Homo sapiens: one gene and its partner. The protein of the gene in region 1 purifies or fractionates together with the protein of each later gene. This does not show direct contact. Each region holds a gene or a part of one and is shown in the gene's direction. Other genes may lie near its edges.

What was found.
Region 2: the proteins of MX1 (region 1) and TRPC5 purify together in Homo sapiens (pull-down; one study listed by IntAct). This does not show direct contact.

What each region holds. Positions count from the first base shown.
Region 1 is NC_000021.9:41,453,601-41,457,257, forward strand, and holds part of MX1 (interferon-induced GTP-binding protein Mx1), read left to right. Parts: intron 1-3,657.
Region 2 is NC_000023.11:111,771,770-111,775,426, reverse strand, and holds part of TRPC5 (short transient receptor potential channel 5), read left to right. Parts: 3' UTR 1-3,657. UniProt on the Homo sapiens protein: Forms a receptor-activated non-selective calcium permeant cation channel. Mediates calcium-dependent phosphatidylserine externalization and apoptosis in neurons via its association with PLSCR1.

The sequences.
Region 1 (3,657 bases):
GTTTATTCTGAGCCAAATATGAGGGACCATGGCTCTGGGAACAGTCTCAGGAGGTCCTGAGGAAGTGTGCCTGAGGCTGTCAGGATGCAGTTTGATTTTATACATTTCAGAGAGGCAGGAATTGTAGGTAAAATCATAAATCAATACATGGGAGGTGTACTTGCCCTCCCTAAAGAGGCAGGACACCTTGAAGGAGGGGGAGCTTACCGGTCATAGGTGGGTTCAGAGATTTTCTGGTTGACGATTGCTTGAAAGAGTTAAACTTTGTCTACAAACTTGACATCAATAGAAAGAAATGCCTGAGTTAAGGCAGTGTTAGAGGCCAAAGGTATGTAGATGAAGACTCTGGGTAGCAGCCTTCAGAGAGAATAAATGGTAAATGTTTCTTTTCAGGCCTTAGAGGCAGCAGGCTCTCAGTTAATCTCTCCTAGATTCAGGGAAGGCCTAGAAGGGGAGAGGTCTGACTGCATTAATGGAGATTCTCTACAGGTGCAAATTCCCCCCCCACAAAACATGGCAGGGCCATTTCAATCTGTTGGTCCTGTTACAGCCGTTTCAAAATATGTCCACAAAATATATTTTTAGGTAAAATATTTGTATTTCCTTTAGGGTCTGCAATCTGTCTTGTGATGCTATACCAGAGTCGGGTTGGAAAGTAAGCCATTTTATACTGAGTTCATGGAAACTCATCCAAGGAGATTTCATGGTTTGTGGGGTGTGTGTGACTTAACCCCTGCCTCACATGACTTTATAATATGGTATCTTACTACTCCAGAGTCTTTTTGGCCAACCTTATGATCTCAATTTCAACCTAAACTCCAAAAGGGCCTGGCTTCTCTTCCTGTTACGGCCAGGAATTCAGATTTTCAGGTTTCTCTGGGGTCCACTTGGCCAAGAGGGGGTCTGTTGAGTTGGCTGGAAGGCATAGGATTTTATTTCTGGTTTACAACAATTTCCTTAGTGCAGCATTGGAATGCAATGGTAGCAGACTAAATGGAAGCTATCGCGTAGACACATGCTTTGGTTGATACTGCACGATTCAGTTAACCTGAAGTACAATCTAATTCATCCTAGGGAAGGAGGCAGTGAACACAGACACAACTCAGGTAGAGCCCTTGGGATGTGTAAACACCTGAGGAGGTAAAGCAAATTGTAATCTCTCGGTTTATCAGATGTCCCCATTGCCTTACTATTTGGATGCTTTAAAGCAGGGCCTCTCAAACTCCACCCAGCACAGAGGCCTCCTGGGATCTTGTGGAAATGCAGATGCTGATTGCAGGTCAGGATGAAGCTGAGATTCTGCCTTTCTTTTTTTTTTTTTTTTGAAACCGAGTCTCACTCCATTACCCAGGCTGGAGTGCAGTGGCACAATCTCAGCTCACTGCAACCTCTACATCCTGGGTTCAAGCAATTCACCTGCCTCAGCCTCCCAAGTAGCTGGGATTACAGGCTTACCTTGCCACCATGCCTAGCTATTTTTTCTATTTTTAGTAGAGATGGACTTTTACCATGTTGGCCAGGCTGGTCTTGAACTCCTGACCTCAAGTGATCTGCCTGCCTCGGCCTCCCAAAGTGCTGGGATTACAGGCGTGAGCCACCATGCCTGGCCTCTGCATTTCTAACGGGCTCTCAGGGGTCACCATACTACTGGATAGAGGCCACACTTGGAGGAGCAAGGCTCTAAACCGAGGGTCAACATCCATTCCTCCAGACACTGGGAGCTGCATGCACGTGAGTGAAGCCAGTTAAGGGGAAGACAGGCATGCACATCAGCTTCTCCTGCAGCCAAGCTCACACCTGTCCGCTGCTTCCACTGCCTCCTAGAATGAACAGTTACCTTGAGAGTAGGTGAGGCATATACATGCACAGAATCCAAACAATAGGATGAGTGACAATGGCAGAGGAGTCTCCGAGCCAAGCAGCTCCCTGGACAGAAGCAGCCCTTCTCCGGGTTCATTTCTGTCCTCCGAGGCTGACTCATGCACTCAAAAGCTCCCATGCATATACATTTTATAATGGTTTTTACACAAAGGTTAGCAGAGGAGTGGACGTGCTGCTCTGTACCCTGCCTCTTTTGCTGTACCTGGGAGATTGTTCTGCCTCAGTTCTGATGGGGCTGCCTTGTTCTTTTCAATGGCTGCTGAGTATCCCATTTTATGGATGTGGTATATTGAGCCAGCTCCCTTTAAGCGAACAGTTTGTTTGCAGTCTTTTGCTAATGCAGGTGTGTTGCTGTGAATAGGTTTGTTTGTATATCATGTATCTGGAAGCATCAATTCCTAGAAATGAGATTCCTGGTATATTAGGATTGTGCAGGGAAACAGAACCACAGATATATGTATGTAAAGAAGTATATTTCAGCCAGGCATGGTGGCTCATGCCTGTAATCCCGGCACTCTGGAAGGCTGAGGTGGGTGGATCTCTTGAGGCCAGGAGTTTGAGACCAGCCTGGCCAACATGGCGAAACCCGGTCTCTACTAAAAATACAAAAAAATTAGCTGTGCATGGTGGCCCATGCCTATAGTCCCAGCTACTTGGGAAGCTGAGATATGAGAATTGCTCGAACCTGGGAGGCAGAGGTTGCAGTGAGCCAAGATCACACCACTGCACTCCAGCCTGGGTGACAGAGCGAGACTCCATCTCAAAACAAACAAACAAACAAAAAACAAAACAAAACAAAAAACAGAAGGAAAGAAAGAAATATATGTATATTTCAAGGAATTGGCTTCTGCCATTTTGGGAGCTGGCAAGTCCAAAATCCCAGGGCAGGCCAGCAGGAAGAGCAGGCCAGAAATTGCAGCAGGAGCTAAGGCTGAGTCCACAGGCGGAATTTCTTCTTTTTAGGGAAACCTCATTTTTCTTCTTAAGACCCTCAACTGATTGGATGAGGCCCATCCACATCATTGAGAATGGTCTCCTTCACTTAAAGTCAGTGGGTTACACATGTTACCCACATCTACAGAATACCTCCGCAGCAATACCTAGATTCGTGTTTGATGGAATCACTGGGGACTCGAGCCTAGCCAAGCTAACACATGAAACACACCATCACAGCTGGGGAAAGGATGGCTTATTTTAGACTGATAAAGATGACCCAGAGAAGGCCTGCTCCATCCACACTGGCCGCTTTAGTCTGCACTAAAGTTGTTGGTTTTTTTTGTTTGTTTGGTTTTTTTTTGGTGACAGAGTCTCACTCTGTCGCCCAGGCTGGAGTGCAGTGGCGCAGTCTCAGCTCACTGCAACCTCTGCATCCTGAGATCAAGCGATTCTCCTGCCTCAGCCTCCTGAGTAGCTGGGACTACAGGCACGTGCCACCACACTCGGCTAATTTTTGTTTTTTCAGTAGAGACGGGGTTTCACCATATTGGCCAGGCTGGTCTTGAACGCCTGACCATGTGATCCATCCGCCTCAGTCTACCAAAGTGCTGGGTTTACAGGCGTGAGCCACCACGCCCGGCCTTGTTGGGGTTTTTTGACAGCCTAATAGGTGAAAATGACATCTCATTACAATCTTAATTGGCATTCTCTTATGACAACAAGCTGGTACATCTTTTTGTGTGTTGAGGGTTATTTCTATTTCTTGCTCAGCAAACAGTTCATCCAGGAAGAGCTTCTTGGTGAGATAGTAGACCTCTGCGATTTCTGTTGCAGACGATC
Region 2 (3,657 bases), on another chromosome or scaffold:
TCCTATTCTACTGTTGATAGTTTTAATTATCATTGCTATCAAATAATTTCTAAGATAAAAGCCTGAATTTGAAATATTTTTATCAGAAAAATGGCATATTGCTGAAGTGTCAAAATATGAGAAAAGAGCATCTTCATTTTAATTAACTGCTTTATAAAAATGGCAACTTTAGGTATAGATAACCTAATTCAGGTTGCAGTTTTAATATTCATTGGGGGCAGTGGAATTGCATGTGTAAATTATGTTAGATATATATCATAACAACCCTAGTGGATTCATGGAATTATAAACGTGATCCAAATTCTACTGTCTTCCAAGAAAGCTACATTTATACATCCAAACAAATTCTTTTCCACAGCTTAAGAGTACCTCATCAGAATACAGTGGTTCAAGTTAAAAAATAAAGTCCATAATGCATATGGTCATCATTCTAGACCTGATAACCACTGAGAACCTGCTGAGCAAGGACGGCTTTTACCAACATTAGCACAAAGGTTTCCTCAGTTTAGACTCTAACATATGACCTGAAACAACTCTAGGTCTGAGTCCTAGAGATTACATAAATAGTGTGTAGCCCAGAAAAGTAAAATAGGTGTCACGCTGTTTTTTTTAATGTCAACACCAATAGGAATCCATTTAGATTAATGTATGTAATTTCTGATAAAAGTAAGAGAAATGAGGAACTTTCGAACTGCAAATATGCCTCCAAACTAGCTTTTGATAAGTGTGGTTTCTGTTATTTGAATGGATTCCCATCTTTGTCTCTAGCCTGGAGAAGAGCAAAATGGAGGGGGAGGGGCCAGAAATAGGAGGAGGTTTTGAAGAATAAAGCCTCATATCCAGGAAAAAGTGATCAAGTGAAAAAGCTGCATCAAGACCCATTTGGCAAGAGGTTGTCCGAAAATAATTCCTTGATCATATCTGAAGTGGTTATTTACTCAAATCAATTTCTCCCCTGCTTCGCTAAGACTGTCATAAAATGGCCTTGACATTTAATCACAGGTTACTTTCCAGAAAGGTTTCTAAAGTTACAGATTCAGCTTTTCAAATTGTCAAATTCACTTTGAATAATAATAGAACCTGGGCTACATTCCTAACTCATATTAACAGCACCAAAAGAAATAGCATATAACCCCATTTTATAAAAAGAAAAACATGTTTTTCTCAGAAATGTATATCACTTCTGAAAACTTATAAGTTTTCTAGCAGTGACCTTATCAACTTGTCAGAAAACAGGCTAGCCAGACATGGAACTGTATTCCAAAAGTCTTCTGTCACTTACGTTCTAAAGAGATAATATGTGTAAATCAATCTCTACTATTGAAAGAACCAGTGTCATATGTCACGGGAGTACATTCCTTTTCAGATCTTCTCAGGGTTATCGTTGTGACTTGGGCTTAAGACTTTACTAGCTATAGTGAAGCCTCATTTAGGATGGGGGTTAAAGCTGAACAGCTATTGCCCTAACTTCCATGTTGGTGACACCAACATTTTTATTAACTCTAATTCAGTACAAAGTAGGAAAGGAAAAAGATTTTGTTCACTTCCTTACTCTCTTGATCAAGTATCATAAAAGGTATTTCAAGTGAAAATGCTTAGGTATATCCTCTGACCCCAGAGGAGTTATAAGCCAACTTGAGAGTAAATTTATAAACATAAAAAGAACTAAAAGAGAACTTTATAAAGGATCTACTCTATTCCAACCTCATATTTTACAAATAGAAAATAAAGAGGCCCAGAGAAGGACAATGACTTGCTCAAGGTCACAGAGCTGGTCAATAAACTCAAGTCTTCTAGATTATAGAAGACATTTATTAGTAAGCATATATGTTATATATAGATGTGAAGTGGCCACTACAGACACCCTTTTGTTCATTTGCCAAAAATGCTGTGAACTCCAAAACTTCAGACTTACATATTTAAATGTGAAGTTAAAAATGTACTGCAAAGTCAAACACAAATAATACAAAAATCATTTACTACTTATCTAAAATATCCATATCATGTTCCACCTACATTACAGTTGGCTTATCACTTCCGGACACCTTGGATTCATTTATTTGATCTCATAAAATCTCCCTAATAATAAAGGTAAAAATTACAAAGAAAATATTTGAATTATATTAGAAAGTGACCATTGTTGAAATATCTCCACTTCCAGCTTTATGTCCAGTGAAATACAGAGGAAAGACTAAATTTAAAATCATTTTCGGAAAATGCCAAACTTTACAGAGATATAAATGCTTCAAGTTACGCTTCTGTCTACTGACATGGAGATATTAAAAAATTCCCTGTTCTGCCTCCATCATTTTTCATTCCACTGTGACCTAACTTAGGCTATTTCAGCTAAGTCGTAAATACCTGTCTGCAATTTGATTAAATCATTTTTAAAAAACGAACGCCTCCACTTTTCAAATGACTTAATACCTTTTCCAAAAAGAACTTTATAGTTCTTATGGCAGTGCAAACCTCATCTGAAAACCTCAGTGGGAACTTTAGAGATAAATATGAGGCCAAACCTTAGCCTGAAAATACAAATGACCATTGGCATTCATGTTACATCATGGGTGAATCTCGTGTGGTGTTTTGACTAATAGTTTTAGTGCCCCAGACCTTGGTTTGTTAAATCATCAGGTAAAAAGTACTTGAAGATAGGCAGCAAATCCTTTGTTTAAAAGTACCTTAGAAAAATTGAGGCTGGGCATGGTGGCCCACTCCTGTAATCCCAGCACTTTGGGAGGCCAAAATGGGTGGTTCACTTGAGTCCAGGAGTTTGAGATCAGCCTGGCCAACATGGTGAAACCCATCTCTACTAAAAATACAAAAATTAGCTGGGCATGGTGGTACACGCCTGTAGTCCAACTACTTGAGAGGCTGAGGCATGAGAATCACTTGAACCTGGGAGGCAGAGGTTGCAGTGCACTGAGATCACACCACTGCACTCAAGCCTGGGCGGCAGAGCGAGACTGTCTCAAAAATAAATAAATAAAGGTACCTAAGAAAAATTGAGTATATTTTCTTGGTAATCAAGTTTTCAAAAGATTGCTCATATAGACATAGTCAATGCAAATTGATCCAAGTGTTCAGATCATTTAAATAACCTCTTCATACCTACTTCACAGCCCTACCTTCAATCCCTGCAGCTTTGCCTCAAAACTAAGGATATTTTAGATTGTTTCTTTGGCTTACTTTATCTAGATAATTGCTCCAAATATCCACCTTGTTGGTGTAGGACTCGGCAGTGGGATCTGAGTACCCCAAATGAATGTGAGCTTTACTTCAGCAGAGAGAAACATTGTTACCATTATATTTCCAATGAACCTTCCAGTAACTTTTTTTCCAACAGATGTGGGTTTTGGCTTGCTTTGCCTTTTGAGGGATGTCTGTAAAAGTGAGAACGTGTCTGTGTATATACATAGACACACATAACAAAACTTAACAGCATTTGATGGTTCTGCCCTTGGCCCTTTATCCCTTTAGGTAATTACTAGATCATTTTGAAGAGAGGGAAGCAAGAATAACTTTTCAATGAGACATTTCCTGAGCTGTGAGGAATTGCCAAAATGAACTGCCATGACAGCATCTTCTGTAGCACTTTTATATTGAGAGCTATCAAGATTTGAGGTTCCTGGTTTTGTTTAAAAAAAAAAAAAGCAT